Homo sapiens: one gene and its partner. The protein of the gene in region 1 interacts with the protein of each later gene in a pairwise test. Each region holds a gene or a part of one and is shown in the gene's direction. Other genes may lie near its edges.

Region 1 (7,760 bases):
TTCCAACATGCAGTATACAAGAATTTCTGTTGTTCCACATCCTTGTCAACATGTGATATGATCTGTCTTTCAAATTTTAGCCATTCTAGTAGCTACAGTGCACAGTGAAACCTTATTATTTTCCTGATTTGCATTTCCCTAATGATTAATGGTATTAATTCATGCACTTATTTTGTCATTTATAAATCTTTGGTGAAATGTCTGTTCAAATATTTTGCCCATTTTAAAAAGTTGGGTTGTCTTCTTATTGGGTTGTAAGAGTTATTTATGTATTCTAGTTAGAAGTCTTTTGCCAAATATATGTTTCGCAAATACTTTCTCCAAGTTTGTGGCTTACCTTTTTATTTTCTTAACAGAGTCTTTTAAAAAGCAGAAGTATTTAATTTTGATGAAGTACAATTCATCCTTTTTTTTTTTTTTCATTTATAGTTTGTGCTTTTTGTGCCATCTTTAAGAAGTCTTTGAGAAATCCAAGGTCACTAAGATATCTTCTAGAAGTTTTGTGATTTTAGCTCTTACATTTAGATGTATGATCCATTTTTAGTTAATTTTTACATATAGTATTGATGGCAGTGGCAGCCCGTCTGGAGCAGCTGCTGCAAAGATGCAAGCTGCAGTGAGGGAGGCCTGGCCAGGGCTGCACACTCCACAGAACCATGAAAACAGGAACAGGCTGGAGCCCCACCTGCTTCTGAGTTGGTGGGGTGGGAGCCCCACCCTCCTGGGCACAGCTGCAGCTGCCCAACCACAGCTGTGGACCTGGGCATCCTTGTGCTCTCAGGGGCCCAGGAAGCCCCTTGCCCCCACAGGCTTGAAAGTGCCTGCTCCTGCTGTCTGGCCTCTCCCTGCTTCTGGGGCAGAGCAAAGTTGTGGCCAAGCCCAGACGCTGTCACAATCTGGCAGGTGTGTGCATGCTTGGGGCAACACTGACATGCCAGCCCCCTGCCACCTCAGCCCCCTCTGGACTTTGGACACTGATGAGCATGGGAGGGGAAGCTGAGGGGGCGCTGAGGGCAGCTCAGTGTGGGCCTGCAGGCTCCCGCTGGCACAAACAGCCTTGGTGCCATGGACAGTGGCATGAGGCAGACTGGCTCCTGGGCAAAAAGGGGTGGGTCCTCAGTGAAACCCTACCTTTAGGCAACTGAGAGTCTGAAGCCTGGGGGCTGGGCTGCCAGGTCCTCAGACTGGAGTGAGAACTTATGGCACTTTTTCTACTGCCCATGGACCAATCAGCATGCACTTCCTCCCTCTTGAGCCCATAAATATCCTAGGCTCAGCCAGACTCAAGAAACATGGGGACAACCTGCCTGCGTGTAGGAGCTACCCACTCCAGATCTCCTCTCTGCTGAGGGCTCAGCAGACATCCTGACGACCTGCCTGCAGAAAGGAGCCACCCACTGTGGGTCTCCTCTCAGCTGAGAGCTGGGCAGACAACCGGACAACCTGCCTGCAGAAAGGAGCTACCCACTTAGAGTCTCCTGAGAGCTATACTGTCACTCAATAAAGCACCTCTTCACCCTACTCACCCTCCAATTGTCTGCATACCTCATTATTCCTGGATGTGGGACAACAACTTGGGACCTGCCAAATGGCAGGACTGAAAGAACTGTAACACAAACAGGGCTGAAACACCCCCTCACTCCCCATGTTGCAAGCGATGAGAAGGACAGAAGAGAGAAGGAGAGAAGAGCTTTGACACTTCGAGAAGCCCAGACCTAAGAGCTCCCTGAGCCAGGACTGTAACACCCTCTTGGGGGCTCTGCATTTCCTGGCATCTCAAAGCTTCCAGGTGCCACCACATTCCCTAGTGCCAGCAGTGGAAGCCGCTTGTGGTACTCCTGGTCCAGCCACAGCTTTGCAGGAGCCAGCGCCCATGCCAGCACCTGGAGCCACCCGCCCCGCCACAGCTGGCGTGCCTAGCTGTGCACAGCGGCCAGACCTCGCGCTCACTTGCTCACGCACCCCTCACCACTTTGCGCCTGGCTCGTCCTTGGCAGGCATGGGATCTGGGCCAGTGGCATGAGCCGAGTGCAGCCTGCAAGGCCAAATGGGCAGAATGAGCCCAGTGGGCCTGAGCAAAACTCGGGCAAAGGAGCCACCGGCCACAGAGGTTTCTGGCTGGCAGAGCAACACTCCAAGGATCCTGTGACAGTATGAGGAAAGGAGCAAGATATTAAGAGTTTTTTGGCATATGCTATTCAATTTTTTCAGGTTTATTTGTTGAAAAGATTATCTTTTCCCCCACTGAATTGCCTTGGCATATTTGTCGAAAATCAATTGATGACATATGTATAGATACATCTCTGGGTTCTATATACTGTTCCATTACTCTATCTATTTTCATACCTATACTATACTGTGTTGAGTAGCTCTTATTATAATGTCTTGAGATCAGGTAGTGTAAGTCCCAAAACTTTGTTTTTTTTGATGAAAGTCTTGACTATCCTAGGTCCTTTGCATCTCCATATAAATTTTAGAATTAGTTTGGTCATTTCCATCAAAAAGAAATCTGCTAGAATTTTTATTGGAATTTCCTTAAATCTGTAGGTCAATTTAGGCAGAAGTGATATCTTAAAAATGCTCAGTCTTCTGATTCATGAACATAATGTATCTCTATTTATTTAGGTCTTCTTTAATTTCTCTTAACAATGTTTTTTATTTTATTTTAGATTCAGGGGGTACACGTGTAGTTTTGTTACATGGGTATATCGAACAATGCTGAGGTTTAGGCTTCTAATGATCCAGGTCACCCAAGTGGTGAACATAGTACCCAATAGTAGTTTTTTCTACCCTTTTGGAATCCCCAGTGTTTATTGTTCCCAACTTTGTGTCTGTGTACTCAACGTTTAGCTCCTACTTATAAGTGAGAACATGCGGTATTTGGTTTCCTGTTTCTGCATTATTTTGCTTAGGACAATGGCCTCCAGCTGTATTCATGTTGCTGCAAAAGATATGATCTAGTCCTTTTTGTGGTTGTATAGTATTCCATGGCGTATATGTACCACACTTTCTTTATCCAATCCACTATTGATAAGCACCTGGGTTGATTCCATGTCTTTGCTATTCCATAATATTTTATAGTTTTCAGTATACATGTCTTTCTCATCTTTGGTCAAATTTGTCCCAAATTTGCTGCTTTTTTTTTTTTTTTTTTTTTTGCTGATAAGAGATATTTAAAAATTTTCCATTTCTAATTGTTCATTGCTAGTATATAGAAATACAACTGATTTTTGTATATTTGATTTTGTATCTTGCAACTTTTGTAAACTCACTTATGAGTTCTAGCAGCTTTTTTGTAGTATTCCACAATTTTCTTATGCAAATAAATGCAGTGCTACAACTTCCTTTCCAACTTGGATGCCTTTTATATATTTGTCTTTTTTTATTTCATTGACCAGAACTTCCAATACAATGTTTAATTGAAGGCAATTTTTACAGAGTAATATTTCTAACTCCCAGGCCCGGATTAGGCTGAACTATGGAATCTTGTTGAATTTGATATCTTTTGGAATTTATTAAATCATTATTTATACTTCATTTTTAAGCTTTTTCCTTTTCCAGTGTTCAAATATTCATCAAATGTTCAAATATTGAACAAGTACCATGCTGGCTGTCAGGGAAATAATGGTGCACAAACAGGCATGGACCTAGCGCTAATGAAGTCTTACCGTACTACCGAGGCAGTTTAAAACAGGAATTAAAAACACAGGTTCAGGGTTCTGTCTGCTTGGGTTTGAATCTGGCTCTGCTCCTTAATGGTTGTTTGACCTTGGAAAAGTTAATCGACTTTTCTAAGCCTGTGTCTTAGTGAAGGTATTAATAATACCTACTCACAGGATTGCTGTGAAGATTAAACGAATTAATACCTTTAAAGTCCTTAAAATACGGTTTGACATATAGTAAATGGTCAAAGAGTATTATTATTAGAGGGAAGAATTAGCTCTTCACAAGGTGAATCTACAAGTGACTGGTGAAGGAGGGGTGTACAAACAAGAAACATAAAAACCAGTTTAACTGCTAAGCATAGAGGCAGCAGTGTCAGCTGTACCTGGGTTAAAATCCTTGCTCTGCTGTTTATTGTCTAGGCAACTTTGACCAGACGACTTAAACAAGAGCAATGCCCGTAAAGTGCCTAGTGCAGTATTTGGCACACAACAGATGCTTAAAAGACAGCAATTACTGATTCAGACGTCCCGCAGAGCAGTAATATCACTAACATGTGCTCATCATCATATCTATCATTTATCAAAGCTCAGGATTTTGAACCTTGTAATTACTTTTCATACATTCTCTTATGCTTAACAACTCGGCTAGGTGAACACAATCCATTGCCTCATAAAGAAACAAGATGACCTTTGTGTATCTATCATCAGTGGGGAGGCTGGAGGTCTGGGAAGTGGTACCTTGGAGCCCAACTGTTGACCAAACCAGGGCTCTCAGTGCGGCCTTGGTCGCCAGCGGGGCGCTCCACTTTCCGCTCCGGAGATGGCACCAGGAGAGATGGGAGTCTGCCAGGCTGTTTCCATGGCCACCTCATGAAGCCCCTGCTCCGGGAGCGTGACAGGCGAGACTCTCCTTCGCCGCCACCTCTCGTCTCAGATGACCATCTGGGCTCGAAAGCCCTCAGGAGCTGCGGAGCGCGGGTCGGTAGGGGCGCTGCAGAGGAAGGTTGGGCGCCGTCTCCCGGCAACGCGCGGGGGGCGGGGCTTTGCGTCACAGAGGTGCGACCGGGTCCCGGCCTGAGTCGCGGCCACCCGCAGGTCTGAGCTGTGGGCTGAGGCAGCGCAGCCGCTGCCGCAGGGTGCGCGATGCCTTGAACCTGGGGTGAGCTCCGCGGCGCTGTCCTTTCGTGTTTCCCTTGCTAGCTGCTCCAGGACTCTGGGTCTGGGAAGAGAAACCCCAGAGGGCCCTCCGCTGCCGAGCCAGGCTTCCGCGGGGAGACAGGCCTAGCCCCGCCGCCCTCCCCGGGCCTCGGATTGGGGCGTGGGGACGGCTGGGGAGGCCATTCTATTGACGCCCGTCTTCTGCCCGGCGGGTTCCAGTTGCCCGGGGTGGCGGTGGCTTGTCCCGCCTCGGGGTGGTTCTGAGGGACCCGGAGAGAGTTTTTCCTTCTCTATCCCAAAACGGTTGTTTGAATATTGCCGCCGGCTCAGTCATTCGGCCGCCGGACTTAGCTGTTGGTTAAATGTCCAGGTGCGCTTGAGGAGGGGCTGAGGCGGCGTAGCCAGAGCGAGCGCTAGGGTGGCCCGCGGGCTCGGTCTCCGCCGGGCTGGACACCCAAATAAGAAACCTTTTGCCTGGGACGATAGCTCAGAAATAGCCACGTCGATCTACTTAGCCAGCCCCACACTTATGAATTGGCTTAGGCTGCTACCCTTCCCAAAGGTCTTTCCTTGTCAAACTAGCTGCTACCTTGAGACCCGGCTAAGAAAAGAACGTTTTCTTGCTAATAATAAGAAGGTAGTGATTACACAGCAGGAGCAGAAGGCTTCTGTGTTAGCTTTTGAAATTATTCCTTCAGTTATTTGTCTCGGCGTTACAAAATGTGGATTTACGATTGTTATTGAAATCGATCCCTATGCCCCTTATTAAAGGTAGTGTACCTTTTATATTCTGACACTGTCCTATTTAGCGGTGCCAGCTAATTCAGTTCTTGCCTCTGGCATATATATAAAGCTGCTGGAACACTTTCAATTGTTTATAATTCTTACATCTTCAGCACGAATTTATTCGTTTTCACTCCCTTCTGCCCATTCTTCTTGCTATAAAATGACCTCTACCCATTCAGAATTTTGTCTGGGGGCATGAGCTGCCACCGGCCGACGATCCTAAATTAGTCACCTCCATGTCGAAGTCACCCGTCTGAGAAGTGATGCTTTCTGAATTCAGAGCTCAAAAATAGTATGGATTTTTATCCTTTTCTTTCACATTGCCTGACTTCAGTTTCTAGAACTTTTTCTCAAGAATATGACTATATGTTTCAAAAATTAATATTTGTCATTTGGTGTAAATGAACTTTATATTCGATGTGTGTAGCCTGATCCTTCTTGGTTCCCATCTAAATACAAACACGCTTTCCTTCCCAAAAAGGCAAGGGAGGTCCAGAGAGAATTCTTACAAGTCTAATATGCTTTTTCCAATATGAAATGCATTTAGTAAACACACTGTTACTGTGAGAAATCCATATTCTTAATCTCCTAGTACGGCACTCTATCCTTTTGTAGTTTCTCTCTCCTTCTCTCTCTAATATATATGTATGTATCTTTTTCTGATCAAGATCTTTGATTCTGGAACAGGCATTCTGGACTCTATAGTGACTCTGGCCTAATTATTTCACTATGTATCTATATTAACTTGTCTTGAAAAAAAAAAGTTGATATCTGTTTACAGATCTACAGTTTGAGTAAACAATGAGTAATAAAGTAAATAATATCCTTAGGGACCCAGTCAGTAGTACTTGGTATTTATTACTGATGTTAAAGTTGACTTGACAGTGAAAATCATTGATGTTTATTTCAATTAAATCCTTTTAGGTGAGGTTGATACAAAATTTGATGGAGAACTGGTTTCAGAGAGGTTTTTAAAATACTACAGTGCAGTACTTGTCATTTAGTCATTTTGGTGCATTTTCAGCCTTTTCCATTTTGCTTTAGTTATTTTATGAATGAATTATGGTTTAAATTTTTAGGAGTTTTTGAGCAGTTTTTTCGTTTTTGCTTTGCCAGTTACCCATGATGTAATTTTAATATTTTTATAAGGAATATTTGAACTTCCACAATTCATTTGTTAGAAAAATAAGTGATTCACTATGTACCACCCACTAGAGAATGTGGCATTTTTGGAATCCTTGATCTTGTGCATTTCAAAATAACAGTTCTTTATTTAGAAAATCCTTCAAATGCTTTTTGAAAGCATATTTTTATCTTGCAAAAAATGACTGTGTTATAGGTGGCACAATAATATGAGAGCTGCTAGTTCTTTGAGAAATCTTGACCAGAAATTCATCTTTTGTTGAATTCTGTGCCAGTGGTTTGCAAATTATGTTTCTATGCAATACCACTGTTGCATGGCCTAGGGGGGAGTATCTTGTTAAAATCAAATAGTAAATGTTTCCCAGTTTACATAAGCATTAATTTAATGACAGATTTTCACAGTTTTACATTTTCTTTCATACATATTTTTAACTTCTGCTTCTCTCCAACCTAGTACTAATAGATGACTGACCAAATTAACAAAAGTCAAAAGAATACTAAGTGAATAATAATAAAACAAAAACTGCCAATGGTATTTACTGCATTTATTCAGTAAACATCTATTGAGTGCTTGTGTATCTGCCAGAAGACAGACCATAGCTGCTGTCCTCAAGAAGCTCACTAGAGGGAAATGGCCAAGTGACTTAACGAATGTCATAGTATGATAGAAATATGTGCAGTCACCAAAGAGGGACACTGAAAAGCTGTGGTGGTTGACTAGAGGATGGCCTCAACAGATTGTTTTCGTGAACATGCACTCTGTGTTGTGGTTTTATATTGTATGCAGATCACAGAGTCATATCTTATTTTCACACCCATATAGTGATAGATGTTAATATTTATCAATATTTTATGGTTTTCAAAATAAACTAAATGTCAAGCCCTCTTTCTGGAACCAGGTTGAAAACCACTTCTGCAGGCTCTCTCAGGTAGTCTCTAGATACTGTTGCATTTTAATGCAAGGAGTTAGTGATGAAGTTTCCCAGATACCAAGTACAGTTACAAGAT
Region 2 (7,226 bases), on another chromosome or scaffold:
AAGTCCTCTGTGCCTCTGCCTAGCTCACAGTCCCGCCTTTCTCCCCCAACCTCTGAGAAAGTGAAAACTGCCCCTGACAGTTTGGAGCTGGCTTTCGCTATCGGGCAGGCTTTGGGGTTGCCAGGTGCCGGCCTGGCACTCACAGGTAGACTGTGGTGTTCTGCTGAACACAAACCATTTCACAGAAAACCATCAGACAGGCCACTCTATGACTATGACGGTTCGAGACCAAGACAAGGCCACTGCGGAAGAACGTCTGAGCACAGACGACTGTGTCCAAACTCCAAAAGATGACCAAACCTCCCCCTTCCCTGGCTAATGTGAGTGACTGCTGCATCTTTATCCATTACAGCGTTAGCACCTCTTTGTCCCTTCTGTCTTCTAGAAACAAATTATTAACATACCCAATTACAGGCCAGGTGCAGTGGCTCACACTGTAATCCCAGGACTTTGGGAGGCCATGGTGGGCAGATCACTTGAGGCCAGGAGTTCGAGACTAGCCTGGCCAACATGGCAAATCCCCGTCTCTACTAAAAACAGAAAAAATTAGTTGGGCATGGTGATGCATGCCTGTAGTCCCAGCTATTCGCGAGGCTGAGGCATAAGAATTGCTTGAACCCAGGAGGTTGCAGTGAGCTGAGATCGTGCCACTGCACTCCAGCCTGGGCAACAGAACTAGACCCTGTCTCAAAAAACAAAAAAAGATACCCAGTGACAGAAACAGCCCTGCTTCCTAACAGGATTCAATCCAGAACAAAGCCCCACTTCCTTGTAACCACCCAACACAAGCCCAACCCTACAATAAGTCCTTTCCAACATCCTCTTCCTTCTTTTTAATTGTGGTAACAGATGATACATAACAGAAATTTTACCATTTTGACCCTTCTTAAGTTTACCATTCAGTGGCACTGAGTATGTCCCGTACATGCTTTTATACTTTTACTATACAAGTATATATCCAAAAAACAATACATACTAGTGGTCTGCATGCTTTTGTACTACAAAAAATGGTATACTGTCTTGGTGCGGTAGCTCATGCCTCCTGTAATCCCAGCATTTTGGGAGGCTGAGCTGGGAGGATACCTTGAGCCTAGCAGTTCAAGACCAGCCTGGGCAACACAGCAAGACCTCATCTCTACAAAAAAAATTAAAAAGTATTAGCCAGGCATGGCGATGTGTGCCTGTTGTCCCAGATACTCAGAAGGCTGAGGTGGGAGGATTGCTTGAGTCTGAAAGGTGGAGGCTGTTGTGAGCCATGACTGAGCCACTGCACTCCAGCCTGGGTGACAGAGTAAAACCCTGTATCAAAAAAAAAAAAAAAAAAGGATCATAGCAACGCATTCTTCTGCATCTTACTTTTTTCTATATAACATGTTCTAGCATTTTAAAAACTATTAAAGTAATATATACTCATTATAAAAAATAATAAAATAGAATAAAAGTATGTAAATAGTGAAAGTCCTTCTGTTTGTTCCCCTCTCACAACTTAATCTCTCTCCCAGAACAGTCCCAGGTGTAACCTTTCAGACTATTCTACACACACCTGAACACACATATATGTACATGCTTATCCAGACAGATTCAGGCTTTTGTCATTTAATATCTCTTGGGTGTTTTTCATTTCACATTACATTTTTGTAACATATTTTGAGATCTGTCAAATATCATACTTTTTTTTTCTGAGACTTTTTTTTTTTCTGAGATGGAGTCTTGCTCTGTCACCCAGGCTGGAGTGCAGTGGCATGATCTTGGCTCACTGCAACCTCTGCCTCCCGAGTTCAAGCAATTCTCCTGCCTCAGCCTCCCAAGTAGCTGCTGGGGTTACAGGCATGGACCACCATACTCAGCTAATTTTTGTATTTTTAGTAGAGATGGGGTTTCACCACATTGGCCAGGCTAGTCTCAAATTCCTGGCCTCAGATGATTAGCCCAACAGGGCCTCCCAAAGTGCCGGGATTACAGGCATGAGCCACCGCGCCTGGTATATTATACTTTAAAGTGGCTGCAAAGAATTTGGAAGAACTTTAAAATGGTGTATGCCATGAGTATTTCTTTGCATTTTTCACCTGTCCCCACCCTACCTTTGTCTCCCGTTTTGGTGTAAATCTTGGGGATCCTGGGTGTCTTCGAGGAAGGCTGTGGCCTAATGAGAAATAAACATCAGTATCTGGTGAGTGGGGATGGCTTACACAGAGGGTCAGCTCCTTCAGAGGGTCCCAGCTTGCTGCTTGTAACCTCAGAGGCAGCACTTACCCCTTACTGCTTAGATGGTCATCTCTTGTTGATTTCTTTCCCCTAGATCCTTTCTAATAGCAAACATTTTGTGGGCAAGACCAGAGCTGGATGACAGAGTGTGTAGAGTAGCTGATGTAATGCCTTGCTCAACAAAGATGCTCAATAAATATTTGCTGAAGGACTTGATTGATCCTTTGCCATTGTCCCTGCACTGTGCCAAGTAGTTTACAGGCATTATCTTCTGGAATTATCCTGGAATCTTTCCACAACCCCAAAGGTAGCCAACACCTATTCTCTTCATTTTACTGAGGAGGAAACTATGGCTCAGATGAGACACCTTCCTAGACCATCCAAGAAGAGGCAGGAGTGGGATGCCCAAAACTGTCCTAGACCAGAGCACAAACTGTAACTTCTATCCTACCGAAATTATTTATTTATTTATTATTATTATTATTATTTTGAGATGGGGTCTCACTCTGTCACCCAGGCTGAAATGCAGTTGCACGATCTAGGCTCACTGCAACCTCTGCCTCCCAGGCTCAAACAATCCTCCCACCTCAGCCTCCCGAGCAGCTGGGAGCACGGGTGTATACCACCACACCCAGCTAATTTTTTTTTTTTTTTTTTTTTGGTAGAGACGGGTTTCACCATGTTGCTCAGGCTGGTTTTGAACTCCTGAGCTCAAGCAATACTCCTGCCTCAAACTCCCAAAGTGTTGTGATTACAGGCGTGAGCCACCGTATCTGGCCTATGATTATTTTGTTCACAGACAGGGTCTTGCTCTGTTGCCTAAGCTGGAATGCAGTGCAGTGGCATGATCATAGCTCACTGCAGCCTTGAACTCCTGAGCTCAAGTGATCCTCTGCCTCAGCCTCCCAAGTAGCTAGGACTCTTAACTCTATCCTACCCAAATTTTTATCTTATACTCCACCAACTCAGGGCCTCTTGCAGGAAAAGAAACCTGAGCCACTTCCATAGTATGAGGCTTCGAGTGTACTCAGAGATGAAGAATTGCCAAAATACAGCTCAAAAAGTGGCATTTTCAAAAAACAATGTAAACAACTCAAGGACATAGCTCAAAATTAAAATGTGACATTACAAGCCCATTCGAAGGTTAATTTCCTGGATCTGTGAACTAAATTAATCCATTATTAATCCACGGTACTCTAGAGGTTCTGAGGTCTGGGTTGAGGTGCAAGTTTCAAGGAATATGAGGAAAGCCATCTTTAGAAGGTGCTGGTGTATCTGGGACCTGGGGAATAAACTGCTTTGGAGATTGGTCACAATCTGAGTCGAGAGCCCTCCTGGCCCACATGGGATATGCCCTGCCCTGCCCGATGATAGCGGGACTTCATTGGGACTTAGGCAAAGACTACCTGGTCTCTGGCGCCCACGTGGCCCACGTTGCCATGGTGACGTCAGAACAGCGTGGAGACGTCACCTGACGGTTGCCGCGGTGACCTCACGGCGGTGTGACGTACCCATGGCGACGACACCACGATTCACGGCAGGTGTTCGAGTTGCCCTTCCCGCCAGCCACTCACCTGTCCCCGTCTTCCACGCCCTGAGGGCCGCGGCTCTGGAAACGGGGATACAGGAGCCTGGCGGCGCCGAAGCACCCGCGCAGGCCAAGACGGCTCCCCAGGCCAAGACGGCTCCCCAGGCCGCACACAGCCATGAGCCAGGCTGCTTGACGGGACCTGACCCCGCCAGGTTCCCGTCCAGTCCGCGGGGTGACTCCACCCACAGCTGGCCGCGCCACCGCTCAGGTTTCAATTTTTATTGGTTCGCAGTTCTCACCCCAGGGCGGGACACTCCCAGGGACTTGTTTCCCATTGGTTTAACGGAAGGAGCGGGGCGGGAAAACCCGTGTCGGCTTGGCTGCAACACCTATTGACCAATGTTCAAGCCTATTGGTAAAGGTACTCCGGGCTCGCGCGCTCTGATTGGCTGGCCTGAAGTACAACGCCTCCTCCCCTTGAGGCACGGGCGCTCTGGGTTGTGGGAGTTGGGGAGCTGCTCCGGCTTCGGCGCGGAGGGGCGGCGGCCGGGGAGGCGGCGGCGGCGGCAGGTGAGAGGCCGGGGTCGGGCGGCCGGGCGGCGCGAGGTCCTAGACCCAGGACGACGCTGAGCCAGGCGTCCAGCTTCTGTGGCTCAGTTTACCCAGCTCTGAGAGTCTTGCCCCGAGGGATCGGCGACCTCAATCTGACAGTCGTGATTTTGAGCTTGACAAGCAAGGGGATTCCCCGCTCTGAGCCTCAGTTTTTCTAAGAAATGGGGATCACGATAGTACTTAGCTCATAGTACACCTGAATCTTAGCGTAAGGTAATCTACGTAAAGCCTTAAGCGGAGGATAATTTTGCGTTATGTATAAAAGTGTAAATTGCACACACCTATAGACCCTGCAAGCTCCTTTCTAGGACTCTGTCCTGCAGAAATACTCATTTAAGTGTGCAAAACGAGGCGTACTGGGTGTTTTCTGCAGCCTTGTTTATAATTGTGACACATTGGAAACAGCCTAAATGTCCAGCAAAGAGTTCTTTCTGCTCCATGATTTCATGTAATTTCTACCTTTAATAGTAGTAGTTGTAAAAGCTGAAACGAAGAACAGAGCCAGTAATAAGTAGCTCTCAGTAATTGAATGATTAGTAGGTGCCAGACACCGCCAAGTGTTTCCCTTGCGTTAATTTAACCTTCCTAACATCCACCGAGGTAGGTACGGTTATTTTCTCTCCATATAACGTGTGGGGAAACCGAGGTTCTTAGCCATTTAAGTGAGTTAACTAAGATGACATCACTGGGGAGTGGAAGAGCTGGCATTTGAACCCAGATCTGTTGGATGTGTCCAGTTGACTCCTGCATTGCCTTTCTGGTACGTAGCAAGTGCTGGACGGTAACTACCTTTTTTGTTATTATGATGGGCTTGAACTAGGTGTTCTAAGATCTCTTCCTGCTGGTTCTGACATCTAGAGATCTTTGCTCTTCTCATTGGCTTTCCCTTTTAGGATTCCCAGGAGCCATGTTGTCAGAAGTCCTACTGGTGTCTGCTCCGGGGAAAGTCATCCTTCATGGAGAACATGCCGTGGTACATGGCAAGGTACAAAGCCGTTAGAGCCTTTAAGGATTGGGTACCCCTTCTCCCTGATGCTAATTTTGTAAGAAGGTAAAAGGACACCCTGAGGCACAGCTTGGGAGCAGATCAGAGAGATCAGGTTCTCCCCAGCCAGGCAAGGAAAAGATTTCTTATGCCCACTGAAGGGATTCTTGGGCCTCGCTCGGTATGATAGCAAAAAGATGATTATAATATAAAGCCCTGTGAGTGGAATGAGATCACCTAGGAGTGAGCTTTGATGCAGAAGGAAAGAGGTTTGAGAACTGAGCTCCGGGGCACTAAGACATTTAGAAGTTGGAAGGATGATCTAGCAAAGGAGTTGAAAACATCCATTATCTCATTTTACCCTTACAGCTACCCCCAAGGCATACCCTTTTATTATCCTATTTTACAAATGTGCAAACTGAGGCTTAGGAGAGAAGTGGTAACTTGATCCAAGTCCTATATACCTTGGTAGAGCTTGGTGTGAACCTAAGTCTGTCTGAAACCACCTCTGCTGCACTCTGCTTTTTTTTTTTTTTCCTGAGACAGTCTTGCTCTGTCACCGGAGTGCAATCTTGCGATCATGGCTCACTGCAGCCTCCAACCTCAGCCTCCCAAGTAGCTGGGACCACAGGTGTGTACCACCATGCCCCACTAATTTTTTTCTTTTATTTTTCTGTAGAGACGTGGTCTGACACTACGCTGGTCTCAAACTCCTGGGCTCAAGTGATCCTCTTGCCTTGGCCTCCCAAAGTGCTGGGATTACAGATATGAGCCACCACACCTGGCTTCTCACTGCTATTCTTTATGTTCTTATATTTCTCATTGAAAACATGGTGATTATGGGGAAGTGATTCCTTGGTATTGAGAACCTCTGAAATTTTGCAGGCAGAAGGCAAAGTGGATTTTAACTTTTAGCTGATCGATGGTGGCTGTTCCCAGGCTTAGTGGGAGAGCATGCCAAGGTTGATTAGCAGTGTCTGGCAAGGGCATGGCTAGGAGTGGCCTCTGTGCTTATGTTTGCTCTCTTCTTAGCACGTGGGTCCTGGCCCCTTTGCCACTCACCCTCAGGCTTATTGCTTTTGTCATTTATTCTATAGGTAGCACTGGCTGTATCCTTGAACTTGAGAACATTCCTCCGGCTTCAACCCCACAGCAATGGGAAAGTGGACCTCAGCTTACCCAACATTGGTATCAAGCGGGCCTGGGATGTGGCCAGGCTTCAGTCACTGGACACAAGCTTTCTGGGTGAGTGCAAGGAGGAGAAACCAGGTGTGCTAAGAGCCTACAGAGAGGGCAGCTGGCCAGGTATTCTGGGCTGTCCCCAAGGGAGCCAGGGGCCAGCTATTTCCCGGGTGTTTTCTACCCTGACCTCATAAAATTAGCTTCACTCATTTTATTTTTTTAAAATTTATAGGTGTAAAACAATGCATTGGATCTCTGTGGGCTGTTGTGGACAGATCATCAAGGCCTATTGTTGAGTGAAAAAAATGCAAAACAGCAAACATACGTATTTAAGTATAAATATGTGTATAAATGATAGAAAAGGTCTCGGGGGCATAGACATCAGATTGGCAGTGGTGATTAGTTCTCCTGGGAGAGACCTAGGGCCAGAGAGTAGACAAAGTGACACATGTTTTAAATAAGGAGAATATATTGGCATTTTGTATAATTAAAAATTGATAAAAGTAGGCCAGGCACAGTGGCTCATGCCTGTAATTCCAGCACTTTGGGAGGCCAAGGCGGGCGGATCATCTGAGGTCAGGAGTTCGAGACCAGCCTGGCCAACATGTCGAAACCATGTCTCTACTAAAAATACAAAAATTAGCTGGGTGTGGTGGCACACACCTGTAATCTCAGCTACTCAGGAGGCTGAGGTAGGAGAATCGCTTGAAC

Evidence for each region.
Region 2: the proteins of RNF141 (region 1) and MVK interact in binary tests that used the Homo sapiens proteins (3 or more experiments, as listed by UniProt).

Annotation. Positions count from the first base shown.
Region 1 is NC_000011.10:10,538,186-10,545,945, reverse strand, and holds the start of RNF141 (RING finger protein 141), read left to right. Parts: upstream 1-4,758; 5' UTR 4,759-4,824; intron 4,825-7,760. UniProt on the Homo sapiens protein: May be involved in spermatogenesis.
Region 2 is NC_000012.12:109,569,568-109,576,793, forward strand, and holds the start of MVK (mevalonate kinase), read left to right. Parts: upstream 1-4,226; 5' UTR 4,227-4,306; exon of another isoform or gene 4,307-5,108; intron 5,109-5,241; coding exon of another isoform or gene 5,242-5,255; coding exon 5,256-5,333; intron 5,334-6,430; coding exon 6,431-6,578; intron 6,579-7,226. Other genes in the region: corrinoid adenosyltransferase MMAB precursor, read right to left, coding at 2,082-2,143, 3,780-3,913. UniProt on the Homo sapiens protein: Catalyzes the phosphorylation of mevalonate to mevalonate 5-phosphate, a key step in isoprenoid and cholesterol biosynthesis.